4 separate regions of the Homo sapiens genome follow, and regions 2, 3 and 4 are each reported to be linked to region 1. The links are microRNA targets in miRTarBase. Many come from high-throughput screens and were not tested one by one. Region 1 holds a microRNA gene; each other region holds the end of a gene's coding sequence.

Region 1 (8,265 bases):
ATGGGTCTCAGAACTCATCTAGTCTGAATCACTCTCTTTGTGGATGAGAAAATCAATACTGAGAAAGGAGAATTAACTGTCCACAGTCACCCAGTTGGTTCTGACAGCACTGGGATTGTAACTCAGACTTCTTTTCTCTGGGGTACTAAGTTTCATGGACTAGCAGAGTAGAAGGAAAAACACAGCTATCTGTTGGAAACTTTAAGATGCAGTATGTCCTGTCAATGTAGAAAATCACACCTGCTTTGAAACTAAACTTTCCTTATACTGAGCAATATTCTGATGTCCAAGGCATCACCTCAACCAAATTATATAATCAAAGCCACAAAATAATGTGTTGGACAAAAACCTAACCCATCTACCATTTCAGAGCCTTAGTACTGTAGATCCTACTGTATGTAGAAGTCCAAATATAAATGTATTTTCATGCTTTGGCATTGTAAATTCCATAGATTAAGATCATTTGATAGATATAAGCTGAATCTTTTACTAAGATTCCCCCCAACCCAAAAAAATACATTAAAGAAACATGACATTCAGTTCTGTTTTTGTTGAGATTCTGTGGCAGTTAAGGTCAAGACAAGGACATTATCTTGTATTGCTGTGATAGATAAGAATTATAAATCTGTGAGCTGTCCCACAGCTGACCTCATGGACTTCAGTTCTCTAAAATTCAGAACCACTTGTCAGTCAAATTTGAGTACCCAAAAGAGATGGGGGAGAGGGGGAGTGGAGGAGGGGACAGGGGAATAGTAAACTAGAGAGCTGGTAGACCATTAAAGAACCTTACTTGAAAGATGTGTGCCCCCATTATTCTCTTTTCTCCTCTTATTATTGTCATTGTCATCATCATCTTCATCTGGTATTTTGTACTTATACTCTCTACTTGCTTATCTGGTGACTCTTAATCCTCTTTGTAAGTTGTAAAGTAAAGAGAGAGCTTCTTCCAGGACAGTGAAATTCAGAACAGTGCCCAAAATTATTTATCAAATCAGCTATAGAATATGACTAATAAGAACCATTCTTTACATGCATATGGCACTTAAAGATTCCCAAATTTTATAGGACCAACCAACTACAAAGTCGTTAAGAAAGAGAATAGAAAATAAAATCATGGTCTATGGCCATACCACCTTGAATGTGTCTGATCTCATTAGCTAAGCAGGGTGGGGTCTGGTGTGTACTTTGATGGGAGAAAATAAAATCATGATTGACTATAATTTTTCTATGGGCCAGTGAGGTACAGGAATCAACCTTTTGATTTATGTCTTCCTAAAGCTACCACTGTCGGCTTTTGTTTGCTTTCGGGTGTACAACCCACAGTGATTGTGAATATAGTGTTATTTTCATGACCATTGCCGCAGTTCATCAAATGTTGACTCCTGCTAGGTATGAAGTTGATACCCACATTAGGTGTGCTGAGGAGAACAGCTGTTCATTGCATTTGGACTTAACTTTGGTTCTGGCTTGAGGGATGTCCTAGGGTTGTGGGAGAAGGAGCTGTGTCAGCGTGAAAAGATGGGTGGTTTGAAGAAACATTGCTGTGTGTATAAGGTAAGTGTATACAGTTTTAAGCTCCCTTTCCAGCTGTATTTTCACAAAATTGCCTGTAGTTGACACTCCCATGAGCAGGCTCTCCATCTGGAGCTAAGAGCCACTCTGAGGTTAGAGATCCCTTTCCAGCTTTGAAAATATCAAAGCAACCATATCCAGCCTAATCTTGACAATGAAGAGCCCACAAATGCTTTTGGGCTGCTAATAGAAAATGGCTTTTGGACGAGAAGATTTGATCCGTGTGGCAAAGCACTTTTATGGGCTTATGTAAAACTAAACTGGATTTGTACAGAAATAATGCAGTATAATGATGCTTTTTTTAAAAAAAAAAAAAATCTAGTAAATTCCAGAGAATGGCCAGATTTTGGAACTCAAAAAGGCTGCTTTCTCAAGGTTCCACTTGTTTACCCTTTGTACCTCACTGCCTTCAATCTTTAAACCTCTGCTTTAGTCTCCAAAGGCCTGTATGTCGTCATGAGGTGGGAGCAACTGCTTCACTGTGATCTAGAAGACCCACAGACAAGCATTCATAAAAACTTCTGGAAGGGACTTTTTAAAGCTGCTATTTACCAGAGTTCTCCCTCTTGGGTGCAGACATGGCTAATTAATGATAAAATCCCAGCGTGTGTGATTCTTGCATTTTGGGGTTGAAGGCAGAACCAGTTTTCTTGCCCTGCAGGCCAGAAGGTGGGGTAACTAAGTGGGGTAGGCCTAGCAGGCAGGAGCCAGCATGGCTGTGCAGAAAGCAGATGGTGAAGACACAGCCCCTCCCAGGCACAGGCTGCCTCTACTGACCACCTTTAAGTAATCACCTCCCTAACGAGGTCCCCATATAGAATCCTCTAAAAGTAGACTTTTTAATGGTGAAGCAAGGAGAGCCTAAAAGGTCAAGGGACATCAGAACTCACATAGCCATTTATGAGTACAGTGAGGAGCTGTTTAGCCCCTTCTGACTCCCTGAGTGGTAGATAGGAAGGGCAATTCTTTTATGTGTATGTATGTAGTCATTCTGTGAAACAGTTAGAGTAGCTTGATTATGTGTTCCAGTGCAGAGGGCTCTTTATGAAACATGCTACAGTGTCCTTTTACTGTGAATAGAAATATAACCTTCACATTAAAGGAGTAAAATAAAGGATAAATTAAACCATTTAATTTATTAATTTAATTATTAAACTGTTTACCACTCAGTATGCAGATCTAGAACTCTTAATGCAACAATTTCCTCACATGTAGAAACTATCATACTAGCTCAGACCAAAGATCCATTTGGCTCAGGAATTTTCCTGTGCTGCTATGGTGGAGGCTATGCTATCTGATGCACAGCCTTTTGGATGTTAGCATACATAAGTAAGAGGTGATTCCCTTAGTCGCTTTATGTTTCTACTATGATAAAAATTGTTCCACCTTTCCTGCACTGCTTTTTCTTTTCTGTCTTAATTGCCTCTTGGTGCAGTGAATTCCATAGTCAGGATAAAACATTTCTTGAGCATTTACTATATGCCAGGCACTGTGGTAGGTGCTATCATATATTCAGTTTTTCAGTGCAGTTACAGAAATACCGTAGAGAACAACGGGTGGAGGGAGGATAGGAAGGAAATGGGAGGCTGAAGGATGGGATGCCCTTTCCAGCATGGGGAAGGCAGAACCAGTAAACCTAAAGTCTGCATTTCCTACTTTTTCAGGGGAATCAGGTAGAGGTTAGGGTCAGCTGCTGATCCTAGTAAAAAATACTAGTAAAATGTGAAAATGAAGTGTTATCAATATTAACCATTAAAACCAGCCTACTTCCTTACAGCCACTTTGGGCTTATAGATGGTTGAATATGTGAGTATGTTGCACATGTTTGTCCTTGATAAAGGTGGCAGAATAGAGATTTGAGCTGGAGTCTATATTCTTAAGATGCTCAGTTCTGAGCATAGCCCATCATCCATTGTCATCTTGTGATGCCTGAGAAATACAGGTCCTCTGTGAAGTCATTCTCCCACCACCTTTATCCTCTTATTTAAATCTGAGGGATTCCTTCCAAAGATAAATTTAGAAATTCGATTCCTACCCCTGTCTAATCCCATAGATCAGGGACATTTGTTTGAGGATCTTTAAATTTTTAATATCATCTTAAAAGCTGGTTAAAGGAAGTATCTGTGATTTACAGAGATGATGGAATTTGTAACACGTCCTCCTTAGGAAAACCTGAGATGTTATAGGAACAAACTCAGTAGTGAATTTAGAATTTTCTATATAACTGTATTTTAAAGGGGGAACTGTATTTTAATCTGTACCCTGGGAATGAAACCGACGGGAAAAGACTAACTCAGTCTTTGCAGATATTTATTCAGTATGAGATATCTGGGTTAATTCATGTAAGAGAAGAAAGTAATGGAATTAAACACTTAATCTCTACATATCATTTGGACTTACCATATTTTATTGTTACAACCTAAAACATTTACCTTTTTTACCTTTTGTAAAGATACCTGGGGGAGCAAAATTCCCAAGAGTCAGAGAAGAAAGTAGAGGAAGGTTTCTGTATAGTGGACACTGGTAGGACAGTGGTAGGCAGAATAAAGTCATACCTAAGGTTTAGTAAACTAGTAACGAGCTTTGCCGTAGACGATTAACCATAGGCAGTCTGCTCTTACTCTCATAAAAGGAATAGGAACCAAAAAATCTCAAGGCCTAGGGGAATAACAGTTTCGGATGTAGGAGCCTTTACTTCTCCCTTTTCACCTGAGAGTTAAGCTTCCTGGCACAGCCTCCTAAGCACAGCACAGCTTGGTGGCTAAAGGAAATGTAGAAAGCTGGAGTGTTCCTAGCCCACATTTGTTAGGGACTGTGTCTTCTAAATCACGCCTTTTTGTGTGTTTTGGGAGTGGGAAGTGTAGGGGCTTCTTGCTTAGGACTGATGCCTACTGCTTCTCAACTTCCTGTGCAGATAGAACAGTCATGTCTTACACACTGCAAGCCTATGGTATGAGAAGGGGCCTAAGCCTGCCCTGTGGACACAGGAGGAAATTAAGGGTAGATGTAGAAAACAGAGGTTCTGATTCGCCACTGGGTGATGGTGGACCCCACAGAAGTTACCCATCTCCTCCTGCTTCGCTTAAGGTTCTTATCTCCCAGAAGTGTCAGGATATTTCAGGTGAGAGACCAATGGAGAATATCTCTGGAGTTAGTCTAATGGCTAAGAAAGGTTAGAGCTGTAAAACAATTACTTCTAGGAGTAGATTTGAACTGAAGAATATAGGGAGCAGTAGAGTTGACTGAGATCTCAAATTGACATGTAGATGATAATTAGTCAAGATGCCTTTCACATTAATATGGATGCTCTGGCCTGAAATAAGCAGAAGGAACATAGAAATGACTCCAGGCTTGAGGAGAAGCAATTCTAGAAGTTATACCCAGCAGAGAATGGACTACAGCAGTTGTTCCATGCACAGGGTTCCAAGGTCCCTAGGAGTTCACAAAGATAGTAATAAGAAAGATGAGCTCATTGTAATATGAGCTTCATTTATACATTTCATATTACCATTAGCTCATCTTTTTTATTACTACCTTCAACAAGGCCTTCTAGACTTATCAAAACACTGGATATCAGTTAGGTAATGTAATACCAGCTACCTCATGCTGATGAAAAGCCCTACTTGATTGCTGCCATTACCTGGGGTGGGTGGGAGGTGGATGTGATTGATGGACTATATGGTGTCAACAGGTGGCCATGGCTGACCTGAAGTCAGATCATCCAAAACACGATGAATGTTAGACTTGAGTATAGGGTGACAATCACAATTAGATTAAATTGTAGCCCATGGTGGTGGGATGCTTGAGGCCCACTGAGGTAAGAGAAGCAGTGTGCTGAGCCCTTCCCAGCCTGAGCTCTGAAACTCTAAATAAACCACATCACTCATTTCTGTCCTTGAAAGAAAGCAAAAGCTGACATCTTCAAACCATAATCAGTTATCCACCTTTGAGGCCATGCCCTGGAACCCCTGCATGTGGCTCTTCCTCACAGCCTGCATGGGTGGCCTAAGACTCTACATAGGAGCAGGCTTCTTTGTCCTCTCTCTCTTCTCCTAGTTAAATGGTGGAATACTGGGAACTAGGGTCAAGTTCTCTTCTTGGGCTCTTAAAGCAAGAGATTAAATACCAAAACAAAAGAAAGGAAGGAGCCACAGAATAGACCCAAGAACGTGAGGTCTTTGGAGTAAGTCTGGGAAAGTGTCACCTTAGATTTAGTTGGCTGCCAACTAGTGGTGTTCCAGAGGAGCTGGGTGCTGAGCTTCCATTGGTTTCTGCTGTTTAGGCCATGGCTTCCAAGCCTCATGTTACCACTGCCCTTGGTCTGCAGGAGCTCCAGGGAAACTCAACATTTGCAGCAGCATTCAAAAAAGAAAAAAATGATAGCCGAGTTCCTCTTAGTTTGATGGACCCATTGAACATTTTATCATGGCTGGCAAAAGATTCTGAAGCATATTGACTACTTCTGTTACACATGGGAGGGAAGAATTGGGGCTAAGTCCATAACTGGCATATTTGCTATCTGTCCTTTCAGTTGACTGATTGTTTCAGCACTGTGGTGACAGTTTCTGTTTTCTGGAGTATTTCAGAAAGGGGAAATGTCTTTGCACTCATTTGTATGTGCATATCTGAACAACTTTAGATTTTTCTGTCTCTTTCTTTGGCTGCTTCATGAGTTTCTATCCACATGCCCCTTGCGCATCCTCACCCATCCTGTTCTTCTCCTTTCTCCTTCCCAGAGCCAAGCTATGAGAATCGTTCGGACGGTGGGGCAGGCCTTTGAGGTCTGCCACAAGCTGAGCCTGCAGCACACGCAGCAGAATGCAGATGGCCAGGAAGATGGAGAGAGCGAGAGGAACAGCAACAGCTCAGGAGACCCAGGTAGGCACTGCGGCTTCTGTGGATGTGGGTGGGAAGGCAGTGCACACAGTAGGCTCTGGTGGATCACTGCCCTGACCCCCAGGCTGTGAACTCATTTTAAGAAACATTTTATTTTTTCCGTTTCTCTCTAAATTCTAGATTCTCTTTAAGGAACACGTATTACTTTTATAACAGAAATTAAAGATGTTTAAATTATTAAATGAGGAAGTATTTAAACTGGATATCAGGGAGAGGTAGAGCTGCTATACTACCAAATCTGACTTCAAAGAAGTTTTCAGTAAAAAAGCACCCCCATAAAACAAATTAGAAAGAACATAAATTTATAATTACCTAGTTTGTTTTATTAAATTTCTAACTTCTGTAGTTCTATAAGCCCTCAATATGGATAGTATTTTAATATCCCCAACTTTCAAGCCTCATTAAAAGTCAGGAAGGAGGCCGGGCGCAGTGTCTCAAGTCTGTTAATCCTAGCACTTTGGGAGGCTGAGATGAGCAGATCACTTGAGCCCAGGAGTTCAAGACTAGCCTGGCCAACATGGCAAATCCCTGCCATGTTGCCTGTATTTTCTACTAAAAATACAAAAATTAGCCAGGCGTGGTGGTACACGCCTATAGTCCCAGCTACTTGGAAGGCTGAGGCAGGAGAATTGCTTCAACTCAGGAGGCGGAAGTTGCAGTGAGCCAAGATTGTGCCACCGCACTCCAGCTTGGGCTACAGAGCTAGGCTGCCTCAAAAAAAAAAAAGTCAGGAAGGAGACAATAAATGTGAAAAAATGAAGTATGGGCAAGAAAAAGAGCAGATAAAAAAAATATTGTTTATGTTAATTTTTAACATGGGAAACCCAAGAAAATAAACTGAGAACTATTAGAAATAATAAGAGAATTCAGCTAGAAAGTCAAAGTTCAATAACACATACAGCTATATTTGTGATTTTCATATATTCCAAGAACAGCTGGTTAGAAGTCATAGTGGAGGAAAAAAATCCATTAAAATAACAATTAAAAAAAAAGATACTTATGAATAATCACAATAAAAATGTGTTTGTTACCTACGAAAAAATCTTAAACAAATGGAAAGGCATGCCATATTCTTGGATGGGAAAGCTCAACATCATAAAAATGTTAATTCTCTCTTTGTTTATCTATAAATTTAACATGACAATACAGATTTCTTTTCTTTTTTTCTTTTATTATTATACTTTAAGTTTTAGGGTACATGTGCACATTGTGCAGGTTAGTTACATATGTATACATGTGCCGTGCTGGTGCGCTGCACCCACTAACTCATCATCTAGCATTAGGTATATCTCCCAAAGCTATCCCTCCCCCCTCCCCCCACCCCACAACAGTCCCCAGAGTGTGATGTTCCCCTTCCTGTGTCCATGTGATCTCATTGTTCAATTCCCACCTATGAGTGAGAATATGCGGTGTTTGGTTTTTTGTTCTTGCGATAGTTTACTGAGAATGATGATTTCTAACAGCAAAAGAGGTACCACAGTAAGCTACAGTATTCAAAACTCATGGGATATAGCTAAAGCAGCACTCAGAGGAAAATTCAAAGGTTTAGTTATTTACGTTAACAGATGACAAATCATGAAAGTCAAATGAATTAAGCATCCCACTCAAAAAGTTAAAAAACAACAAAAGAAATGCTAGTCTGCAAATGGCAGCATTGCAAAGTGGCTCAGAGAGAAGACCTTTGCTTTGCATTGTAGCTGCACCAGTCACTGCCTGTGTGATCTTGGGCAAGTTCCATAACCTCTCTGTGCTTTAGTTTACTCTTCTGAAAAACAGAAATAGTAGTACTGTGCACTT
Region 2 (8,265 bases), not on the chromosome of region 1:
GGGTGCATTTGGAATAATTCAAAATAATCTTTCTTATTTGTCCGTAAACTCTAACTTATCTTCTTTCTTCAACTTCTAAACAGAGCAGTCTGAATGCCAGAATGGATAACCGTTTTGCTACAGCATTTGTAATTGCTTGTGTGCTTAGCCTCATTTCCACCATCTACATGGCAGCCTCCATTGGCACAGACTTCTGGTATGAATATCGAAGTCCAGTTCAAGAAAATTCCAGTGATTTGAATAAAAGCATCTGGGATGAATTCATTAGTGATGAGGCAGATGAAAAGACTTATAATGATGCACTTTTTCGATACAATGGCACAGTGGGATTGTGGAGACGGTGTATCACCATACCCAAAAACATGCATTGGTATAGCCCACCAGAAAGGACAGGTATTTCTCTTATTTTAACTTCTGTCTTCTTCACCTGGTTAATAATAGACAAAACGACGTAATGATTGCCCAATTACATGTAAGCAGGTTTGTTGGTTCTCTCTCTCCTTAAAGAAATAAATCGTGTATCTTCTCTTTCTACTGCCTTCTCTCCCCAACTTCTTTGCATTACCATGGTACTCATCAATATTGGTTGGATGAGGAACTTTTCTTATCTTGGGAAAGCCTTAATGGCTTTTTTTTTTCTTATTTACTCACTCATTAAAATACTTTTCATTACTCTAACACATGTTATAAAGAAATAGTTGGAAAAGTACATCGAAAGACTTTTAAAAATATTTGGTAACTAGTAAAAGGACTACCATCGAAAATCAACTCAAAAAATTGTCCTTTTATGGGTTAGCTGTATTATAATACATATCTATCATTTGCCCCTGTGTCTTAGAGGATATAATTTGACCAGCTCTACATTTAATCTGTGTAATTATGAGACTGTTTTACAACAATCTTGATGCAGAGTTGGTAGGTTAAGAAATTTGTATTACAGAAGTTAAAAAAAAAAAACCAAAAACTAGATTTTTAGGTTTATTTTACAGGCATTCTTATTTAACACTTAAAGATTTTGATTTCCAGTTATTAAAATGGTAGCTTTAGAACTCTTTGTAAGGAACAACTTTACAGTTTATTTATGACTACTTCTGTTGGCCCCTTAGTGGGGAAGCATTGTATTCAAATCATAGCAGAACAGGCTTGAGTTATGATATATCAAAAGGATGATAATATGTCACTGTATCTGGAAAAAAAGATAATTTGGAAGGAAAGGAGAGAAAGTTGGTTAAAATTCATTGTAAAATGTTCAGTTTGACTTATGAGGTTACAGGAGCACTTGATATTGAAATTGGAGTTGGAATTGGAGTGTTACCATTTAGTCATTCATTAAACAAATAATTTATTGCATGTCTCCATGTTCCAGGGCCTCTTAGCTGGGAGAACATCAGGAAAGAACAAAATCCTTACTCCTGGGGAGCTAGCATTCTAATAAAGGATGACAGGCAGTGAACAGAATATAACAGTATAAACAGAATAAATAATTATTCAGTATGTTAAAAGATGACATGTGCTATGGCAAAATAGAACACAAAAGGGATTTGGAAATATGTGGGAAAAGGAATATTGGTGGCCATAGGTTATGATTTTCAATAGGATACTTAAAGTAGGTCTCATTGAGAAGACACCACTTGAGTAAAGAATGTAGTTAAAGACTAGACAAAAGAGTTGGCCATATGGGTAAATGGGGAGGAAGTCATTTAGGTTGGAAAGGACATCTACTGCAAAGGCTCTATGGCGGGAGCATGCCTGAAATATTCAAGGACCAGTAAGGAAGCCACTGGGCTGGAATGGAGGGAGAGACGGGAAGTTGGGTATGCTGTTAAAGACCTACTTTGGGAGTGGGACTGGGGCAAATCCTGGAGGACTCTAGGCAGAATGAGAACTTTGGTGTTGACTCCAGATACAGTGCTGAGCCCTGATCTGGTCACCCTGGCTGTTGTGAGAACAGAGGCAGCAGACAAAGGTGGAAACTAGAAGACTATGGTTAGGAGGTTATAGAAGTAATTCAGGTTAAGTGATGATTATGACTCACACCAGAATGGTAGCACTGAGCAGCAGCTGGATTCTGGACATAGTTTGAAGGAAGAATTCCTGGGATTTCCTGATGGAGTGTAAATGTACAAGAATTACTCTAAAGTTTCTGGTCTGAGGAACTGGAAGTGTGGATTTGGCATTCCCTGAGATGGGAATATGGTTGATAAAGCACGGTTGCATGAGAAGATCAACATTCCTATTTATTTCAGTCTTTGTTCCCTCCCCTTCTTCCTAGGCTTTCTACATAGCTATTCTGCCATTCATTTTACTGCTTCCACTTTATTTTTCTTCCTTGTGCCTATGTCTTCAGCCTGCCACTGAGAACCAGTGGCATCCATTGGACATCTATGAAACCTGTGTGTCAGTCAGGGCCAGAGAAGTTGCTGACCCCTCTGGAAACATCCTTTACTGTTTTACTTCAGAGAATAATTACTGAAAGAGATTTTTGTTAAATGTTTATAATTAAAACAACAGGCAATTGTTCTTGTTCCAGAGTCATTTGATGTGGTCACAAAATGTGTGAGTTTCACACTAACTGAGCAGTTCATGGAGAAATTTGTTGATCCCGGAAACCACAATAGCGGGATTGATCTCCTTAGGACCTGTGAGTACTTTGATTTCACCAGGACAGTTGGGGGAACAAAGATAATTTTATTTGTCTCTTTTTGGACTATGTTTTTGGAATAAGATGAGTTAGTAGATTGTGCCAACGTGAAATAAAATCTCTAACAGTATCCAGTGAACTCTATTCTGTTGATATTTTAGAAGGTAGATACATGCTTACCAAATTTCAAATGATTTGAAGTTGACAGGGCCAACTACTTCATTGGATGATGGGATCTAGACCTTCAAAAGATGTTATTAATGGGCCCATTTAGTAAAAGGAAATTTAGTTGAGATAACTTATACATTCCTATATTTGAATTAAACACTTTCCACTGCTTGAGTTCAGGTAAGTATATGTGAAAAAAGTTTACTGCAAGCTCTAAATGAGTCAGTGAGTTGTCAGGCCTGTCAAAAGTGTTTATCCAGTCTTAGGTGATAGTAACAAAAGGGTAGATGTCAAAAAAGATGAAAGTATTTATTAGGAACAACCTATTCCCTGATGGTCAGGCAGCCCATGAAATACTGTCTTCAGATTTGAGCCTCAGTTTTCAGGGCTATAGGGACTTGCCCAGAAGAATGACCATGTTGTAAGAGAAAAGGTTGAATAAGAGGTAGGTATTCAGTTTTATAAAGAGAATGTGTAGCAAGCAGTTTATTACTAGGAGAGTTTGAAAGAAAGTAAGTTAGAAAAACACATAAGAAGTTCCAGAAAGCAAAACCAGCACCAAAAGGTGTAAAGTTTAGTCAAGATTGATATGAATGCATTTCTAATAATGAATATTATTGGAAAATGGAATGGCATGTTTTGTGAGGTCATCAGGTTTTCTTCCCATGTTGATGAGAGATTTATGATAATTAAAACTACCTTTAGATTCTCTGCTTTGTGCTTTATATATATTCTTCAACAGCCCTATAAGACAGGTCATTTATAATTACCATTAATTTACTTGTTGTTACTGCCTTTAGATCATATAAAGACCTAGATATTGTTGGTAGGTAGAGTCAGACTGATTTTTGTATCAAATCCTGGCTCTACCACTTACTGTGTTATTTTTACAAGTTATTTATGACTCTTGCCTCAGTTTCCTTAATTACAAAATGGAATTAATAATAATACAGCTGTAGCTATGGGGGATTGGATTCAGGACCCCCTGCTAATTCCAAGGTTGCTAAAGTACCTTATATAAAATGGCATAATATTAGCATATAACCTACACAATCCTCCTGTATACTTTAAATCATCTTTAGATTGCTTATAATACCCAATACAATATAAATGCTATGTAAATAGTTGTTATACTATATATTTGTAAATTTGTATCATTTTTTTTTCTGAATATTTTTAACCCTTGGTTAGTTGAATCTGCGGATGTGAAACCTGCAGATATGGAGGGCTGACTGTACCTACTTTCTAGGGTTGTTGGGAGGATTAATACAGAAAATGTGTAGACAAACATAGCATGGAACATAGTGAACCCTCAGTAATTGCTACTACCTGTTAGTGTCCTTTTACTTTTATCAGGACAAGAGTAGCATCCTTTTGAATAATGTGCTTTAGAAAAGAGGCCTCAATGTTAAAATACTTTCACACTTTTTGAGAAAAGATCTAATTAGAATATGAAAGAAATTGCCATTGCGGGGAAAATGGTCTGAAATCACGGTAACATTTCTTTTCTCTCTTTTTAAAAATCAGATCTTTGGCGTTGCCAGTTCCTTTTACCTTTTGTGAGTTTAGGTTTGATGTGCTTTGGGGCTTTGATCGGACTTTGTGCTTGCATTTGCCGAAGCTTATATCCCACCATTGCCACGGGCATTCTCCATCTCCTTGCAGGTAGGTTTTGTCATCATACTTACCTTTTAGCTTCTTCCTGTCTCTTTAGGGACCAAAGAGTTATAAATCTGAAATGTTCACGTATTAACTGCCCTGTCACATTGCCTGAAAAGCTCTTTACTGTGCTTTTATCCAGCCATGTTTTGTTTTGTTTTCTAAATTTTCCCCCAAGGTCTGTGTACACTGGGCTCAGTAAGTTGTTATGTTGCTGGAATTGAACTACTCCACCAGAAACTAGAGCTCCCTGACAATGTATCCGGTGAATTTGGATGGTCCTTCTGCCTGGCTTGTGTCTCTGCTCCCTTACAGTTCATGGCTTCTGCTCTCTTCATCTGGGCTGCTCACACCAACCGGAAAGAGTACACCTTAATGAAGGCATATCGTGTGGCATGAGCAAGAAACTGCCTGCTTTACAATTGCCATTTTTATTTTTTTAAAATAATACTGATATTTTCCCCACCTCTCAATTGTTTTTAATTTTTATTTGTGGATATACCATTTTATTATGAAAATCTATTTTATTTATACACATTCACCACTAAATACACACTTAATACCACTAAAATTTATGTGGTTTACTTTAAGCGATGCCATCTTTCAAATAAACTAATCTAGGTCTAGACAGAAAGAAATGGATAGAGACTTGACACAAATTTATGAAAGAAAATTGGGAGTAGGAATGTGACCGAAAACAAGTTGTGCTAATGTCTGTTAGACTTTTCAGTAAAACTAAAGTAACTGTATCTGTTCAACTAAAAACTCTATATTAGTTTCTTTGGGAAACCTCTCATCGTCAAAACTTTATGTTCACTTTGCTGTTGTAGATAGCCAGTCAACCAGCAGTATTAGTGCTGTTTTCAAAGATTTAAGCTCTATAAAATTGGGAAATTATCTAAGATCATTTTCCCTAAGCATTGACACATAGCTTCATCTGAGGTGAGATATGGCAGCTGTTTGTATCTGCACTGTGTCTGTCTACAAAAAGTGAAAAATACAGTGTTTACTTGAAATTTTAACTTTGTAACTGCAAGAATTCCAGTTCAGCCGGGCGAGGATTAGTATTATTTTTAACTCTCCGTAAGATTTTCAGTACCACCAAATTGTTTTGGATTTTTTTTCTTTCCTCTTCACATACCAGGGTTATTAAAAGTGTGCTTTCTTTTTACATTATATTACAGTTACAAGGTAAAATTCCTCAACTGCTATTTATTTATTCCAGCCCAGTACTATAAAGAACGTTTCACCATAATGACCCTCCAGAGCTGGGAAACCTACCACAAGATCTAAAGTTCTGGCTGTCCATTAACCTCCAACTATGGTCTTTATTTCTTGTGGTAATATGATGTGCCTTTCCTTGCCTAAATCCCTTCCTGGTGTGTATCAACATTATTTAATGTCTTCTAATTCAGTCATTTTTTTATAAGTATGTCTATAAACATTGAACTTTAAAAAACTTATTTATTTATTCCACTACTGTAGCAATTGACAGATTAAAAAAATGTAACTTCATAATTTCTTACCATAACCTCAATGTCTTTTTTAAAAAATAAAATTAAAAATGAAAAGAGACTCAATTGTATATAGAGTGTCTGAATTGATTTAAATCTCAACACTTTAGGATAAAGAAGTGGAGGCAATCTCTGTGGTTGTCTGTGCAAAGTGCATCTTGCTGTACAGGGCTGTCGTTACATCCTGTGTTTGGGTCTCTTGTTTGATCTTCTGGGAAATGTAGGAACCCCTTCCCCCTATTAGAAATAAGAAAATCTTTATCTTTTATTTTTCAGAATTTTAAACCATGTTCTCAAAAGTAGTTTTGTTATCTCTACATGTCATACTTAATGTGGCTAGTTTTCAGTAAAGTCATTTAGTGGCTGTGGATGTTTGTGTTCTATAGTAAATAACCAAGTCAGCTTCTGACTTAGAACAAAGTCAGCATTACTCTGTAGCCAATTATTGCCTGTGAAATGACTGGTTACTCAGGTTTCTATCTAATCTTAATTCTTGAAGATTCATTACCCTTCAGCGCCTTCTGTGGAAGGTGGAAAAGAGAAAAGCTAAATGAACAAACAAAACACCTTTGGGAATGGGATAAGAAAATTTTTGGCAGCATGACATTTTTGTATTGGTCAGTTATTTTAAACAATGTCCCTGCCTCTTAATACCCCAGAGTTACATGGGAAGCTACTAGCACCATAACCCCTGGTGCTGCATTGTAGTTGGTATTTTTAGCATGTTGCAGGGTAGCTGAGGTTATCTTTCCTGCAAAGACTTTTTTTCTTTGGAATATATAGGGCTGTATTGTTCATTTAAATGTGAAACTGATTCTAATCAGGTTGAACCATATGAAACTGCAGATATTCAGCCATTTTTGATCAACCTAATAGATAAAATCAGTGGCAAGGCGAACCCTATTTAATCTTTGAAAGCAACCCCCAAAGTAAAAAATTAATTTTCAGATTTTTCAGAATGAATTTTTTTTTCTTTTGGGGTGGAGTTTCACTCTTGTTGCCCAGGCTGAGTGCAATGGTGCGATCTTGGCTCATCACAACCTTTGCCTCCTGGGTTCAAGCGATTCTCCTACCTCAGCCTCCCGAGTAGCTGGGATTACAGTCATGCACCACCATGCCCAGCTAATTTTGTATTTTTAGTAGAGATGGGGTTTCCCCATGTCGGCCAGGCTGGCCTTGAACTCTCGACCTCAGGCGATCCGCCCGCCTCGGCCTCTCAAAGTGCTGGGATTACAGGCATGGGCCACCATACCCGGCCTCAGAATGAATTTTGTGGCAGTTTAACAAATGTGTTTTAAGACTTTGATTTTATAGCTCCTAACTAAATGATGTGGGTAAATATCCTCTATGATTTTTAGCAAAAGACTCATTTCAAAATTTATTAAGTATAGCCATAAAACACAATTTGGCACAACAACAACAACAACAAAAAAGGAATTCTAGAATTTATTCAGATAACAGTGTGCCTTCTGTCTGCATCATATTACACTAGGATTTCAAATTTATAATCTAATGGGAATGTGTTAAAATTTTACCTGCTGTAGTTGTGTGTGTGCACATGCACACGTGCGTTAAGGGAGAGGATAGGGTTGACAATCACTCCTAGGTGAACTCATTTAGTCATATGATTTGAGAAGAATGAGATGACCACAAACCATATCAATTTAGTTTGTTTTTCCATTCCAGAAACATCACCAAATTGCAGACTAGCACAGTTAAAACCTATAGACCCTGTCATGTTCAATTGACTATAACATATATAGATCGGGCCATTTTAATACTTAGCCTTCATATAAACTTTCACCAAAAATGAAAACCTGTTAACCTAATTTTGCTGATTGAAAAACTTTCTTTTTTGTGAAATGGAGTCTCACTCCGTCACCCAGGTTGGAGTGCAGTGGCCCAATCTTGGCTCACTGCAACCTCCGCCTCCTGGGTTCAAGGGATTCTCCTGCCTCAGCCTACGGAGTAGCTGGGATTACAGGTGTGTGCCACCATGCCCAGCAACTTTTGTATTTTTAGTAGAGATGGGGTTTCACCATGTTGGCTAGGCTGGTCTCAAACTCCTGACCTCAAGTGACTCACCCACCTTGGCCTCCCAAAGTGCTGGGATGACAGGCGTGAGCCACTGCACACGGCCTGATTGCAAAACTTTCTGAAATTCTCTAGCAGCTAAAAGAGCAGTTAATGGGTGCAGCTCTGAAGATGCAAATTGTTATTTCACAAGCTTGATGCAGCTGTGTCCTGGCACAGATGGGTGGAGGCTTTTGTCCTCCTTTCAGC
Region 3 (8,265 bases), not on the chromosome of region 1:
AGAGTGAAACTCTGTCTAAAAAAAAAAAAAAAAAAAAGTATAACATAGAGATAAAGTATACTTCAGAACAAGGAATATTACCAGGAATAATGAGGGATAGTTCATAATGAAAAATGAGTCAGTTCATCAGGAGGCCTGAAACTCCTAAATATGTCAGAACCTAATAACAGAAATTTTTAAAACTTAAAGCAAAAACAACTGAAAGAGAAACAGACAAATTCATAATGATAGTTGGAGAGTTCAACCTGATCTATCAGTAAATGAAAGAACAAGTGACAGAATCAGTAAGCATATAGAAAACTTAGTACTGTGAACCAAATGGATCTAGTTGATACTGACAGAACACTCTATGCAACAGAAGCAGAATACACATGCTTTTTCATATAGACTGTATTCTAGAACATTAAATAAATGTAAATAACTTTTAAAGAACTGCAGTCATACAATGTACTTTGATGAAAAAAAAATTAAAACCAGAGATCAGTAACAAAGAGATATATAAAATATACTCAAATATTTATAAATACACATGACTGCAAATTAAATTATACTTCATGAAAATTTGTGGGGTACTACTAAAGTGATGCTTGAAGGGAAATTGTAGCAAAAATGGCTATATTAGAAGATGGTTCTCAAATCAGTGACCTAAGCTTCCACCCTCAGAAGTTAGAAGAGCAAATTAAACCCAAAACAAGCAGAAATAAGATAATGATGAATTTTAGAGCAGAAATCAATGAAATATTTAGCAAAAAGTAATAAGAAAAAAAATTGAAGCCACAAGCTTATTATTTAAAGAGGTCAATAAAATTGATAAACATTTTACCAGACTAATTAGGATATTAAGAGATTAAGCACAAACTATGGATGTTAGAAATAAAATAAAGAACTTTACTACAGATCTTACAGACATAGTAAGAATAATTTTTTAAAAAGTAGGACTGGGTGGTTTTCTTGAGAACAAGGCCCTGTGCTCCCATGAGAATGGACAGAGTTGGAATATAAGGCATCTGAAGGGCCCTAGAGAGGAGTAAGGGGAGGGGCTTCCATTGAGGAAAGCAAGTTACTTCTGTCCCCCTCTTCTAAATTTGCAAATTATTAGCGTGCTTTCCCACTTTCTGCTCCTTTTTAACCTCCCATCTTTCATACCATCCTTCACCCACCTTCAAGTATTAGCTTAACAGGGATGTGGGTGGTGTCAAGCAAAACCATTTCTTGGCCTTTCCTGTCTCACTGCTAAGCTCAATTCTAGCGTCCTGTTTGTTTTCTTTTGGTAAGTTTTCCCTCTCTCCACTCTAATCCTGCTCCAGTCATTCTTGGTTATGTATGTGTGTACTAACTTTTGATTTGGAAGTAATTTCAAAGTTATCAGAAAATTTGCAAGAATAATAGAAATTTTGAACCCAATAAACATTTTGCCACATTTGCTATTTGCTTTTCCATTTTCTCTGTCTCTCTCTCACTGACACACATTCACACACATTCTCTTACATTACTATAGTACAGTTAACAAATGTAGAACTTTAATATTGACATAGTCCATATTTCAGTTTAGCCAACTATCACACTATCTTTTACAGCAATTTTGTTTTTCTCAGGATCCTGCATTCCATTTAGTTGTCCTGACACTTTAGTCTCCTTTAATCTGAAACAGTCCCCTCTGCCTTTCTATTTTTTCCCTGATATTAATTTTTTTTAAGAATACAGTCCAGTTGTGTCGTAGGATCTCTCTCAATTTGTGTTTCCCTGATGGTTCCTTGTAATTAAATTCACATTACTGCATTTTGAACAGGAATATAGAGTCTTGTTTTAAAATGAATTTATATTGCTAATTATTTGTCTGTTTTGTGTTTGTTTTGTTTTGTTTTCATTTTAGAAAGCGGCCTCTTACACTGAGGAAGATGAAAATCACACAGCCAAAGATTGCCTTCTGGTTTATTCTCAGGAAGAAACTGAATCGCTGAATGCTTCTATTGGTTGTTGCAGTTTTATTGAAGGAGAGCTAGATGACCGCTTCTTAGATGATTTGGGACTTAAATTCAAGACACTAGCTGAAGTTTGCCTGGGTCAAAAAATAGATATAAATAAGGAAATTGAGCAGAGACAAAAACCTGCCACAGAAACAAGTATGAACACAGCTTCACATTCACTCTGTGAGCAAACTATGGTTAATTCAGAGAATACCTACTCCTCTGGCAGTAGCTTCCCAGTTCCAAAATCTTTGCAAGAAGCCAATGCAGAGAAAGTAACTCAGGAAATAGTCACTGAAAGATCTGTGTCTTCTAGGCAGGCGCAAAAGGTAGCTACACCTCTTCCTGACCCAATGGCTTCTAGAAATGTGATAGCAACAGAAACTTCCTATGTCACAGGGTCCACTATGCCACCAACCACTGTGATCCTGGGTCCTAGCCAGCCACAGAGCCTTATTGTGACAGAGAGGGTGTATGCTCCAGCTTCTACCTTGGTAGATCAGCCTTATGCTAATGAAGGTACAGTTGTGGTCACTGAAAGAGTAATACAGCCTCATGGGGGTGGATCGAATCCTCTGGAAGGCACTCAGCATCTTCAAGATGTACCTTACGTCATGGTGAGGGAAAGAGAGAGCTTCCTTGCCCCCAGCTCAGGTGTGCAGCCTACTCTGGCCATGCCTAATATAGCAGTAGGACAGAATGTGACAGTGACAGAAAGAGTTCTAGCACCTGCTTCCACTCTGCAATCCAGTTACCAGATTCCCACTGAAAATTCTATGACGGCTAGGAACACCACGGTGTCTGGAGCTGGAGTCCCTGGCCCTCTGCCAGATTTTGGTTTAGAGGAATCTGGTCATTCTAATTCTACCATAACCACATCTTCCACCAGAGTTACCAAGCATAGCACTGTACAGCATTCTTACTCCTAAACAGCAGTCAGCCACAAACTGACCCAGAGTTTAATTAGCAGTGACTAATTTCATGTTTCCAATGTACCTGATTTTTCATGAGCCTTACAGACACACAGAGACACATACACATTGATCTTAAAATTTTTCTCAGTCACTGATATGCAAAGGACCACACTGTCTCTGCTTCCAGGAGTATTTTAGAAATGTTCCACAATTTACTGAAGACATAGAGATGATGCTGCTGCTTAGGTGCCTTTTAGCAAGCTATGCAAACAATCCTGATAAAACAAGATACATAGAGAGTCAATCTGGCTTCTGAGAATTTACCAAGTGAACAGAGTACCTAGTTCATCAGCCGTCCAGTAAAGCAACCCAGGAAACTGACTGGGTCTCTTTGCCTACCGTATTAACATTAAACATTGATGTTCTGTATTCTGTACTTTACTGCACCCAGCAGACTTTCAACAACTCATTGATCCAAAGATACATGCACAGTCTGAGCACCAGCTATGGTGCTCATAACTTCTTTAAGACTTGAACCCTTTCAATCTGTGTGATTCATTAAATTGGACCATTGATGATAAGAATACACATTGTATGTTTCTGTGCACATGACAGTGTGTGTGTGTGCACGTACATACTGTATAGTCTTAAAAATAGCATTATACTGGCCAGGGGTGGTGGCTAACGCCTGTAATCCCAGCACTTTGGGAGGCCGAGGCGGGTGGATCAACTGTGGTCAGGAGTTTGAGATCAGCCAGGCCAACCTGGTGAAACCCCGTCTCTACTAAAAATACAAAAATTAGCTGGGCGTGATGGTGGGCGCCTGTAATCCCAGCTACTTGGGAGGCTGAGGCAGGAGAATCACTTGAACCCGGGAGGCGGAGGTTGCAGTGAGCCGAGATCGCACCATTGCACTCCAGTCTGGGCAACAGAGTGAGATTCCGTCTCAAAAAAAAAAAGAAAAGGAAAAAAAAATAGCATTATACCTCTTCCTTGTCTCAACCGCCATGAAAATTCTGAACACTCCAAATTCAGTTGAATAATCCAAAACAAAATTTATAAGTATAAAATAATTTTACTTCTTATAGTAATAGTATACTTTAAAAAGCCTCAGGGTATATTATCTTCTAAACAGCTACAATTCAGTGCAGCTACATTAACCAACTATGTTCTCTAGTTGAGAACAACTAGGCCTATTTCACTGCTGTGTAGCCTCAGTGCCTAACATGGGTGCCAAATAAATATTCGTAGAATTACACTGAATTGTAAAAACCATTCGTTTTTGTTTACAATTGCCAAAAATCTCAAAAGGCCCTGTATTTATGTAATTCTTTGAAATTATTATTTTATTTTGATTTCTCAGTTATTGACTGGCTGGGTGTGACTTAGTACATAAGTACTCAATATTATAAAAACCTCAAATAATTGACTTGATTTTACACAACATCCTTCCCTTTTCTACAAGTTAATTTTTTTACAAATCATTTGGGTTATCTCCTAAATAGGTTATATTTTATTGCTTCTAGAAACAATGTTTCAAAATATATGTGCATTATCAGTAATAATTTGTATAAATATTTCCCACAACAATTTTCATAATTTTCAAAGACTAATTTCTTGACTGAAGATATTTTGCTAGGGAAGTGAAACTTTAAAATTTTGTAGATTTTAAAAAATATTGTTGAATGGTGTCATGCAAAGGATTTATATAGTGTGCTCCCACTAACTGTACAGATCAGGACACATATTTTTAGACATCTAAGTCTGTAGCTTAAATGGAGGTTACTCTTCCATCATCTAGAATTGTTTACTTAGTAATTGTTGTTTCTTTTATTATTATAGACTTACTATCAGTTTTATTTTGCCAAGTATGCAACAGGTATATCACTAGTATATGAAAATGTAAATATCACTTGTGTACTCAAACAAAAGTTGGTCTTAAGCTTCCACCTTGAGCAGCCTTGGAAACCTAACCTGCCTCTTTTAGCATAATCACATTTTCTAAATGATTTTCTTTGTTCCTGAAAAAGTGATTTGTATTAGTTTTACATTTGTTTTTTGGAAGATTATATTTGTATATGTATCATCATAAAATATTTAAATAAAAAGTATCTTTAGAGTGACCCTTTCCCCATAGATTTTTATTTCTCTATTATATTTTACAAGGAATATAACTCAGTTTGTTAGGGAGAGTGCCTTAAAGGCAGGTGTTTCTTGGACTTTGTTATTTAATTAGATCTGCTTGCAATAAAAAAAGTTGTCGGTTATCTAAAATTCAAATTTATCGGGGTACTTGGCATTTTCATTGTCCAACTCTGGCAACCTTGTTCCTAAGGAAGTGAAGGTTGCTCTCTGCCCAGAGTAACACTGGAGAAATCTGTTGGGTCTGGCAGAAGAAGGCTAGTATATCTAACCCAAAGAGATGAAATCATTCTACCAATGTTTGAGAGGCTGTTTTAATTGCTTGTTATAGTTTAGAAGGGAAAAGATCAGAGTTGCTGCTATAAGAGAAGAAAAACAAATTTTCTTCTAGGTCCCCAGCTGGGGCTCTGTAACAAAACACAGATTAACAAGAGAAAAACAAACATTAGTCTGTTAACATGTGTATCTCATGCATGCTTTGGAGTAACTGGAATGAGCAGCTCAAAGGGGTGGTTAGAACTTGGGTGTAAAATGTTAAAAGAAGAGCTTTAAACAAATTAAATCTAACAGTTTACTTAAGCAAAGAAAGGTTCACAAAATTGGGCTGCCCTGGAACTAGAAAAGGTTCGGAGAACTCTATTCTACAATAATGAGCAGGCCGTATTCATAGACAGAAAATGGAAGTGAGGTAGGGAAGCTGCTTGATTGGTTACAGCTGAGCCTTTGCCTTATTTGGAGGTGGGCTGATCAGTTGGCAGCCAGTGACTGGCTGAAACTCAGCTGCTGTGATTGATTGACGCTCAGCTATGTATTACAAAAATATACTCCTAAATTAGGCTTTCAGTTCATTTATGTACCAAGCTAGGCTGCAGTTCGTCATGTGGGGACTCAAGGTATGGAGGCAGCCTCAGGCCCAGTTTAATTTAATAATATACCAACTTGGGCTAAAACATAGGAAAGGGGATTAGGGGCTTCTGGGCAGGGGAAACAAGTTATGGGAAGGTGACCAGGAAAAGTCTGGTAAGCTTGAGTAAGATTTGTCATGCAGATTTAAATTAATCTCTTTGTCACTTATAGTCATCCCGTGTTTCCGGTACGGAGGGAGACAGCCTTACAAATGGACATTTCCCTTATAAATGTAAATCCCTTTACAAAAGGTAAACTTACGTTCTGTCTTCAGAGTTTCTCCTGCGTCTGCTATTTCTCAAAATAATCAGCTCAAAATAATCCTTATACTAAAAACGTATTTTGGGGGCTGTAGCATATTCTAGTCGACACTGCCGGTAAACTGGAATGTCTCATGAATGAAGATTTCACGACAATGGCACATCAGAACATCCTAAAGCATGAAGACTGGTTTATTCCTGCGTGACTTCAGTTCCCACTCCCAGTGGCACATGGAGCTAATTCTGGTTGATCTCTGCAGACCATATTCCAATCACCACCACATCAAAATGTCTACAGTAGGACGTTGCTAACCAAATATCACCTAAAAATGAGACATTTCAGATCATTAAATCTGACTTTCTTAAAGGACCAAAATTTATTAGTTTCATTATGTTTTATTTTAATCCTCTATATCATTCCCAATTACTTTGTCTACTGTTTCCATTAATTACTAAGAGGTTGAAGTCTCCCAAGTGTGGCTTTGCTTATTTCCCCCTTTAATTCTTTCTATTTTTGTTTCCTGTGTTTTGAAACTTTTTGCCTGTGTTATTAGGTACAAGTACATTTAGGATTACTGTGTTCCTGAAGAACTGATCTTTTTATCATTATGAAATGCCTCTCTTCATCTCTGTTTATAACTGCTAATTACCTTTAGCCTAAAGCTGCCTCCTTACATTCTTTTCCTTTTTTTTTTTTTTTTTTTTTGAGACGGAGTTTCAAGTGAGTGAAATGGCGCAAACTCGGCTCACCACAACCTCCGCCTCCCAGGTTCAAATGATTCTCCTGCCTCACCCTCCCAAGTAGCTGGGGTTACAGGCATGCGCCACCACGCCCAGCTAATTTTGTATTTTTAATAGAGACGGGGTTTCTCCATATTGGTCAGGCAGGTCTCAAACTCCCGACCTCGGGTGATCCGCCTGCCTTGGCCTCCCAAAGTGCTGGGATTACAGGCGTGAATTACCACACCTGGCCCTTGTTACATATTTTAAGTTTGGCCTGAAGGTTTCTCCATACTTAGTGAACTATAACCTAACTGGATGTGTAAACAGACTGTAACCTACTCTTGTCTGAGGCAATCACGGCCGCAATACTTCAACCACTCACAGGCAGCCAACTGTTCAAACTGCATTCAAATAAGGCAAACCCTGAGCTGTAACCAGTCCTGCTATTCTGTACCTCACTTCCTTTTTCTATCCATAAATCCTCTCTGACCACGTGGCAGCACCAGCGTGGCTCTGAATCTACTCCGGTTTAGGTACTGCCCAATTTGCAAATTATTCTTTGCTCAATTAAAGTTTGTAAAATTTGTTTATATATTTATTTATTTTATTATTTTGGAGATGGAGTCTCACTCTGTCACCCAGGCTGGAGCGCAGTGGCAGAATCTCCGCTCACTGCAACCTCCGCCTCCCAGGGTCAAGTGATTCTCCTCAGCCTCCTGAGTAGCTGGGCTGGGATTACAGGTGTACGCCACCACACCAGGCTAATTTTTGCATTTTTTTTTTTTTTTTTTTTTTTAGTAGAGATGGGGTTTCCCCATGTTGCCCAGGCTGGTCTCGAACTCCTGGCCTCAAGTGATCCACCAGCCTCAGCCTCCTAAACTGCTGGGATTACAGGCGTGAGCCACCACACCCAGCCAACTTTGTAAAATTTAATTTGCCTGAAGTTTTTCTTCTAACACATTCTTTGTCTTGAAATCTACCTTGCCTAACATTAATACAGCCATACCAGCCTTCTTATGGTTAGTGCTTCCGTGGTATATCTTTTTGATCCTTTTGCTTGACACCTGTCTGTGCCTTTATAGTACATTTATTGTAAACAATATACAGGTAGGTCTTGGCTTTTCCCATTTTGACAATTTCTGACTTTTATCAGAAGGTTTTACAACAATTATTTATATGGATAAGTTTAAGCTTCCATCTTTGTATTTGTTTTATCTTTGTCCACCTGGGTTTTCTGTTGGTTTTTTGGTTTTCTCCACTCTTGTTTCCTGACTTCTTTTGTGTACTGCATGCTTTAGGATTCCACTGTAGCACCTCTGTTGACCTTTCACCTACACCCGCTTGTGTTTACTT
Region 4 (8,265 bases), not on the chromosome of region 1:
GTTACACACATCTCTTTTCTTAGTACTGGACATAGAGCTAGCAGACATCCGACTTGGTTGTGATGATGGTTGCACAGCTCTCTAAATTTTCCAAAAATTGTTGAATTATATACATAAAATCAGTAATTAATTTATGGTTATACCTTAGTAAGGTGGTAAAAGCTTCACAGATGAGTCTGATGCTCAGGGCACGTTAATTATGTTTAATACTTGGTGGCAGTGATACATCTCTTAATTTTTAATATCTGGATGCATATTTTGGAGTATTAAATATATATGCTCCTATCTTTACAGGAATCCTACGGCCCCTGAATATTTTGGCATCTTCAACCTACCGCAACTGTGTCAAGAATGCCTCTCTTATTTCTGCATTGTCCACTGGACGTTTTAGTCATATTCAGACACCAGTTGTTTCCTCCACTCCCAGACTTACCACATCTGAGAGAAACCTGACATGTGGGCATACCTCAGTGATCCTTAATAGGTAGAGTATATTTCTTTGTGGGGTTTTTTTTGTTTTTTGTTTTTTGTTTTTTTTTGAGACGGAGTCTCACTCTGTTGCCCAGGCCAGAGTGCAGTGGTGCATTCTCAGCTCACTGCAACCTCCACCTCCGGGGTTCAAGCAATTCTCCTGCCTCAGCCTCCTAAGTAGCTGGAAAGTTCTGGGATTACAGGCGTGAGCCACTGTGCCTGGCTGGTAGAGTCTATTTCAATAAACATGATGCTTAGACAAACTTTCCAAGATATTCATGCCTGCAGGGGTATCCTAGAAGTAGGTGGTATTCTTTGCCTACCTGCAGTTAATTATGTAGACATCTGCTTGATTGAGTGGGAGACTGTGACTGACATCCATGTATCTAGGCGCCTGCAGCAGGAAAATGCCAAACACAGCATGCTTCTGATGTTGTATGTGTGCTTTCCTGCATGGAGGCTGTCATCCAAAGTGGAGGGTGCACAAGACGCTCAGCTTATAAGGATGGGCTGCATGTGTTGGTCATTCAGTCAGCAAATACTCAGTTAAATACCCCTGGGTGCCTAGCACTGTACTTGGCAAAAAGGACATAAGGGTAAACAAATTGAAGTCCTCAAGGAGTTTGCAATCTGGTGGGAAGATGGATAAGAAATAAAGCGATGATAATAGAATGAATTATTTTACAGGGATTGAGGGGGTAGGTTTTAGAAGATTGCGAGTTGGTGATGGTTGCTATTCTAATTTATGCTTAATGTCATGGGTCATTGGAAGTAATATTGTATATGAAAAGTTAGTTCCAGTCCATTGGAGCAGCTTTACTCATTTCTCAGTATAGATAATGAATTTTAATCCTTTAATCAGTCTGATTACAAGCTAAAAATTTTAAAATATATTTTTAGAATGGCCCCCGTGCTTCCAAGTGTCCTGAAGCTGCCAGTCAGATCTCTAACATACTTCAGTGCAAGAAAAGGCAAGAGAAAGACCGTGAAAGCTGTCATCGATAGGTTTCTTCGACTTCATTGTGGCCTTTGGGTGAGGAGAAAGGTGAGTCTTCACACTGTTACTAAATTGAAAAAGGAATGTGAGGCCGGGCGTGGTGGCTCACGCCTATAATCCCAGCACTTTGGCGGGTGGATCATAAGGTCAGGAGTTCAAGACCAGCTTGGCCAACATGGTGAAACTCCATCTCTACTAAAAATACAAAAATTAGGCGTGGTGGCAGGCACCTGTAATTCCAGCTACTCGGGAGGCTGAGGCACATAATTGCTTGAACCCGGGAGGTGGAGGTTGTAGTGAGCCAAGATCGAACCACTGCACTCCAGCCTGGGCGACAGAGCGAGACTCCGTCTCAAAAAAGAAAAGAAAAAAGGAGTGTGAGCAGATTAAAATCAAACAGAATTCAGAATTCAGCCAGGCACTGTAGCTCATGCCTGTAATCCCAGCACTTTGGGAGGCCAAGGCGGGCAGAACACTTGAGGTCAGGCGTTGTGGCAGGTGCCTATAATCCCAGCTGCTTGGGAAGCTGAGGCAGGAGAGTCGCTTGAACCTGGAAGGCAGAGGCTGCAGTGAGCCAAGATCACGCCACTGCACTCCAGCCTAGGTGACACAGCAAGACTTCATCTCAAAAAATGAAAAGAAAGCAGCTTAAGACCAGTTTTGCAAAACCATTTTTGAGATTTAGTAACTGCCCAAATCCTAATTCCCTTTCATTACTTGGAAATTAAATCTTTAAAAATCAAAATTTGGTTCCCTGTAAAAATAAAATAGTTGGTAGAACTTTCTTGATGTTTGAAAGGTTGAAAGGATTCTCCCGTTTTATAAACAGTACTAAATTAGTAGATAAATGGGTTGGTTGGAACTCTCAGCTCATTTCTCTATTGAAACACTGTGGTGGGTAGTTTCCTACACCAGTCAGCAGAAGCTCATATAATCCATAAAGCAGCTAAACTAAAGGTCTAATGTTCTGAGTTTTGTGAATTTGAGACCACTGGAAACATTTCTTCCCTTTTGTGTGTATGTGTTTTTTTTTTTTTCTTTTTTTGAGACAAAGTGTCACTCTATCGCCCAGGCTAGAGTGCAGTGGCACAATCTTGGCTCACTGTGACCTCTGCCTCACGGGTTCAGGCCATTCTCCTGCCTCAGCCTTCCGAGTAGCTGGGATTACAGGCATGCACCACCATGCCAGGCTAATTTTTGTATTTTTAGTAGAGACGGGTTTTCACCATGTTGGCCAGGCTGGTCTTGAACTCCTGACCTTAAGTGATCCACCTGTCTCGGCCTCCCAAAGTGCTGGGATTACAGGCATGGGCCGTGACGCCTAGCCCCACCCTTTGGTTTTTATACCAGTTATTTCCAGGTCCTCTTCTAGCCCTAGGTAAAATGAAATGGGTGGGTTTCCTTGCCTTCCTTTCCATGTCCCTCTTACTGGGCTCTGGGGCCCTCATGTTACTGTAAAGGACCCGATCATACTCTCCAGTCATAATACCTAGCTTCAGTTCAGGGCTCCCGAAAGTATACCCTGTATAGAATGCCCTGCCTCTTCAAAATCTAATTTTCAGAGAAAAAAAAAATCTGGGTAGATGAATTCAAACTAATGTGTAAAACAAAGTATTTTCCATGACACGGTTTCATCCAGCAGTCCTTGGTATTTATTGTTCATTCCCTCCTTCCATTTTTGAATCTAGAGATTGTCTAAAAAATTTCAAGCATTTTCATAGTGGTTCCATTCTGTGAATAATCTTTAAAGGATACTGGTGGTAATGAGCAGGGCAATAAATTAGGTGTTTGTACGTCAGAGATCCATAGTAACCCAGTTTGGCCTGCAAACTATGAAATTATTACACAAATGTGGAGATTTGGCTTTAAATGTTTGCATTTAAAATTGTAAGCAGTGAGTAGCAAAAATCTAACCTCTAGCATTCTAAAACCAGAACTCTTAAATAACCTTTCCTTATTTCATCACTGTCCTTATAGAAGTTGATGGTCACAGTGATGATACTAAGACATGTCAGAAATGCAAGGCACATTCTCGGCAAAGAGCCATGGTTTTGTTCAGTTGGTATTGTGCCATAAAGAGCCCTTGGCTTGAAAGGACCCAAGGGCTCACCGTGTGGTTTTAGCCAGATGTTAATTAAGCTGGATGGCACCTAAGATCCCTTCTAGTTTAAACAGGCTATGATTATAGTTTTTATAATCAATCAAATTTTCCTTTCCTGTCTTTAAAAATAAATTCTTCAAAATGAATAATACCTGTATGGGTGTATATGAAAGTTCTGGGTTAAATATGTGGGTTAACCATTCCTTCACCACTCCTAATAATAGTCTTACCATATTCATAATTCCTTAGAAAAGTACTTCCTATAAAAATTGGTCCCTTGTGTGTGAAAATAATAAATGAAGCAATATATTTGAGAACTGTGCTTCTCAGCTCTTGTAATACTCAGCCTCCTTAATAAATATTAATGTTGTTACCTCGCCTGCACTCCATCCTCCTCTACATTAGGAAAGACAGTGGTTAAGAACTCTTATTAGCCTGGGCAAGATGGTGAGACCTTATCTCTACAAAAATTTAAAAAGTAGCTGGGTATGGTGGTGCACACTTGTGGTCCCAGCTATACGAGAGGCTGAGGCAGGAGGATCACTTGAGCCCAGGAGGTAGAGGCTGCAGTGACCGTGATCATGCCACTGCACTCCAGCCTGGGTGACAGAGTGAGACCCTGTCTCAAAATGAAACAAAAAAAGAACTCTTATTAGCCCTCAGACCTCTGTCTGCTACTTCTCTAATCAATGGTTTCTTTTTTTAAAGATGTAAAATAGAATAATAGTATGTTGTTAAAGATTGCTGAAGAGATAGTAAGATCATACCTGTTAAGTTAGTGATTATAATTCTGTCATTATCTTGTACTTTCCCAGCCACACACATTTAGTTTTATTTTCTGTGAGTTTAATTTAAATAATTTTTTTCTAAAATATGATTTATTACTAATTCTTTTTTAAACTACACATGCTTTCTCCATCCCCCTCCCCGCCACCCTCCCTTCCCCCGGCCATTGAGAATCACATCTTTCCAAGAAATAGTCCAGCCCCTATGGAAGTCTGGTTTTTGTTCTTATTGGGTCTATAAACCTTGAGTTGTGAAGATACCTGTTGTTTCATACATAGTATGATGTTTTACATTTCTTTGTAATATCTGACAGGCTGGCTATAAGAAAAAATTATGGAAAAAGACACCTGCAAGGAAGAAGCGATTGAGGGAATTTGTATTCTGCAATAAAACCCAGAGTAAACTCTTAGATAAAATGACGACGTCCTTCTGGAAGAGGCGAAACTGGTACGTTGATGATCCTTATCAGAAGTATCATGATCGAACAAACCTGAAAGTATAGATCAGAAGTTTCACTTGTTTCTCAGTTATTGGATATGTATCTTTGTGTACATATCTTTGCAAAAATGGATAAGTACAAAACTTGATGTAAATTGTACCAATGAATACGTAAACATACAGTGACAACATTAAACTTAGAAAAGTTTTAAAACTTAATGGATCAGACTTTGCCAGATTTGGTTAGGGAAACAGAAATTTAGAATGGTGCATTATTTTTAACAAATGGTATTGGCTTAACTAGTTGTTTCAGTTATGCTCTTTTAGTTGCAAGGAATCTCAAGTGGGACAAACATAAAAAGACTCAAAAGCTACAAGTTAGCTCAAGCAATGTGACATTATTTCAAGGATATGTGCCAGGGAATTCAGGAACCACCTCACCAACCCCATCTCCCACTCAGAAATCACCTCCCAGCCTCAGGAAGAGTAGAAATTGGGTGGTGCTCCTCAGCAGGGGAAGGTGGATGTTTAGGCTTGGGCTCTGCATGCATGTGACTTGCTTCTTTTTGCATTGTTAACTCCATTCTCTCTATTCACCAACTTCTCTACACAGCTTTTGCATACTTACAGTTTCTGTTCCTTTGTAATAACTTTAACTTGCACCTTTGAGGTTCTTTTCTACATGATGACCTTCAGCTCCTGCTGCTAGTCTCCAATTGCCAAGGGAATTTAACTGGGCCAGACTACCTTTTTATACTAGGTCTGGTTGGGTCATTGTCTAGAGTAGGGATTGGCTGTCCTTAAGTCAGGAGCCCGCTTTGTATTAGCAGGTTTGCATGCAGCAAAAAAACAGTTATGTGAGCAGTTTCACTTGGAGGTTCACATGGGGTGGCAGCACACTTAACATCTAACACACCAGGTTCATTGTGTTCATAACACTTGTCATTTACTGTAACAACATTTTTTCATAGGAGAGTAAATAGCCCTTCAGCATGCTCATTCATGAAACAGAAGAGGCTGTACAAGTGAAGACAAGGGCTTTTTATGCAAGTTTTGAAAGATAGGTATTTATTTTTTCTAGAGACAGGAGTTTTGCTCTGTTGCCCAGGCTGGAGTGCAGTGGTGCAATCATAGCTCATTGAAGCCTCGCACTCCTGGGCTCAAGTGGTCCTCCTGCCTCAGCTTACTGAGTAAGGATATGTATTTCTTAAAAGTTAGTTTATCCACTTCAGATTTCATGTTTTCATTTGTAAGGATAAACTTTTCCCACAAATTTTCAACAATCATTGTAGAAACTAAGGGGGAGAAAGTAATCTCAGTTGTTTTAGAAACGAAAAAGTTAAGCATTGTTTACTTGAAGTGGGCAGGGAAGCAGCACTGAGTAAAGTTCAATTGAGTGGTTACAGTCTAGGGCAGTGGTTCCCAACTCTCCGATCAGAATCATCTGGGAAGCATTTTCAAACAGCAAAGTACTTTGAAAACCATTATTAAATAGAATTATGCATGAATTACTGTTTCAGATCCTTTAATGTGGTAGTTGGTAATAATAAGATGAAATTCCTCTGTTGTTAGTAAAATTATGAAATTGAAGTTCTGCAGCATGTCAGGCCAGGATTATTAGGGAGATTCCTCGAAACTAGTGTGTGTTTATTAAAAGGAGAAAGGATAACAATAGAATGTTCTAAAACCAGAAGTCCAAGTGCGTGTCTACTTATGGGACCAATAAATAAAGAACAGACATTTGATTTGAGGTGAGGTAAAAGCCTGAAACATGGAATGGCATTCTGTTTTGATGGATTTTCATTTCTTCGCACTTCTGAGACGGCAAAGCCAACCACTTAGAAGCCTTCCACATCTTTGTCACCTGCCTGGCTCCTGCTCTCTGATGTACCTCTGGGTAGTGAGATGGAAATGGTGCCTGCAGAAGTTGGGGAGAAGGATACTTTTGCACAGCCTCCATGATGTCTTTATTGCAAATATGGATGACAAGGGTCTCTGTTACAGGGGCCTCAGAGCACCTTCGTTTCTCCTCTAGACCAGGGACAGGTGTAGAGATAAGGACTGGCAACCAGAGCCTCAGCATCCAAAGATGGACTGAAGTGGGATGGCTGACAGGCACATAACTTACGGGAAAGGGAATTTCATACATACGATTTTTGTTTTGTGGGTAGGAGGGCTTATCATCAACACTGATTTTATAATCTGACAATAAATGTCTTTCATTAAAGAGTTTACCTAAATGATGTTCGATTATATGTATAATTTATAAAATATTTATGTATAGTTTGTTTATTCAGGTATATGTATAATTTATTGAACACCTACTATGTCCCAGCATATCTACAAAACTGGGTACATACATACTGTCTAACTGCTAATCCACATTTCCAGTCTTACAAAGGACATAATGATTAGTTAAGCCCTAATTTAGATTTGAGGAAACTGAAGCTGAGAGAGGGTTAAGTAAATTACCCAAAGTACAGCTAATAAGACCCAGAATCTCAGTCTCACTCCTTGGGATCCTGTGTATTTCCCTGAGTCTTCTAACATATGAAAATTCATATCTAAATCAACAAGTGACTGTAATCTGGTACTATAAATACTAAATAAACACTTCTTCATAACACTGTACCAATTCAGCTTTTAAATTTTATTACTTTGCTTTCCTGTCCTTTGCCAACTCTTAACCTAGTTAATCCTAGTTCTGTTGACATTGGACCAGGCTCAGTAAATAAACGAATGGATTTCCAGCCTTTTTTTCCCATCTGTTCCTGCTTTTAGTCCTCTGAATCTGCTTCTTTTCTTACTGCTGCTTTATTTTACAGTGATTTTGTCAAACATAGAATACAGGACTAAAAATGCAAAGAAATTGGGTCTGTGTTTAATTTTGATGTTTCAAATTTTGAGCTTCCAAGTCTTTGTGGCCACCCAATGAAGTTTGAGTCTGCCTGTTCAGATGTGAAAGGTAAGGGCTGCAGCAGGTTTAAGGGTGGCCCTTCACCACCCTGTTGTCACCTGCACAGGCACTCCCCCATTTGCAGATGAAGAAATGTTCAGAGAAGAAAAATGATGGACCAAACGTCTGTTTGCACAATTGAAACTCTACCAGTGGACTATTCTATTTTCACAGCTACCTAGTTTCTGCCGATGATTTTTTTAAATGTGAAATAAACAGTGATACTTTCAGGTTTGTAGTTGTGTGATGAACTGGTTTTCAAAACATTTATATCATCTGGTTTTCTTTCCCTCTCAACATCCTATGCAACAGGCACGGGGCCAAGTCACCAGGCCAGTCGGTGGCTGAACACTCAGCTTCTAATCCTTGCTACCTCCCATATTTGAAAAAAAGTATTTCCTGTTTCCTTTTAAGCCCAACATTACAAAGATGTTTTTTAAAAGAAAAATGTTAAGACTTTATTCAAGATGTGTATCAGGCATTATAACAAAACAGCAGAACTTCAACCTTTGGAAT

What was found. The annotated mature microRNA hsa-miR-556-3p reads AUAUUACCAUUAGCUCAUCUUU and lies in region 1 at 5,074-5,095, shown strand. An mRNA with a match to its seed (bases 2 to 7 or 8) in the 3' UTR can be bound and repressed. Matches are read on the target gene's strand: a 7mer-m8 pairs with bases 2 to 8, a 7mer-A1 pairs with bases 2 to 7 and ends in A, and an 8mer does both.
Region 2: the mRNA of CLDND1 is a reported target of hsa-miR-556-3p. Seed matches in the 3' UTR shown: 7mer-m8 at 5,808-5,814.
Region 3: the mRNA of DSG2 is a reported target of hsa-miR-556-3p. Seed matches in the 3' UTR shown: 7mer-A1 at 4,440-4,446.
Region 4: miRTarBase lists MRPL35 as a target of hsa-miR-556-3p. Seed matches in the 3' UTR shown: 7mer-A1 at 5,437-5,443 and 8mer at 6,333-6,340.

What each region holds. Positions count from the first base shown.
Region 1 is chr1:162,337,527-162,345,791 of GRCh38, forward strand. It overlaps MIR556 (microRNA 556), which reads left to right and starts at 5,020; the gene lies at 5,020-5,114. NOS1AP (nitric oxide synthase 1 adaptor protein) reads left to right here. Exons shown (of 10, transcript NM_014697.3): 6 at 6,309-6,450. It also overlaps the pseudogene RNA5SP61.
Region 2 is chr3:98,513,261-98,521,525 of GRCh38, reverse strand. It overlaps CLDND1 (claudin domain containing 1), which reads left to right. Exons shown (of 5, transcript NM_001040181.2): 2 at 84-393; 3 at 2,531-2,641; 4 at 4,337-4,474; 5 at 4,647-6,043. The coding sequence starts at 102. The coding sequence ends at 4,867. Among named protein-coding and RNA genes, the nearest start is that of CLDND1-AS1, 5.2 kb to the left of the region's middle.
Region 3 is chr18:31,543,848-31,552,112 of GRCh38, forward strand. DSG2 (desmoglein 2) reads left to right here. Exons shown (of 15, transcript NM_001943.5): 15 at 1,874-5,161. The coding sequence ends at 2,896. DSG2-AS1 (DSG2 antisense RNA 1) reads right to left here. Exons shown (of 6, transcript NR_045216.1): 3 at 6,191-6,512; 4 at 1,889-2,059. Among named protein-coding and RNA genes, the nearest start is that of DSG2-AS1, 8.9 kb to the right of the region's middle.
Region 4 is chr2:86,205,812-86,214,076 of GRCh38, forward strand. MRPL35 (mitochondrial ribosomal protein L35) reads left to right here. Exons shown (of 4, transcript NM_016622.4): 2 at 295-484; 3 at 1,372-1,516; 4 at 4,669-7,979. The coding sequence ends at 4,857. It overlaps REEP1 (receptor accessory protein 1), which reads right to left. Exons shown (of 9, transcript NM_001371279.1): 9 at 8,182-8,265. Among named protein-coding and RNA genes, the nearest start is that of MRPL35, 10 kb to the left of the region's middle.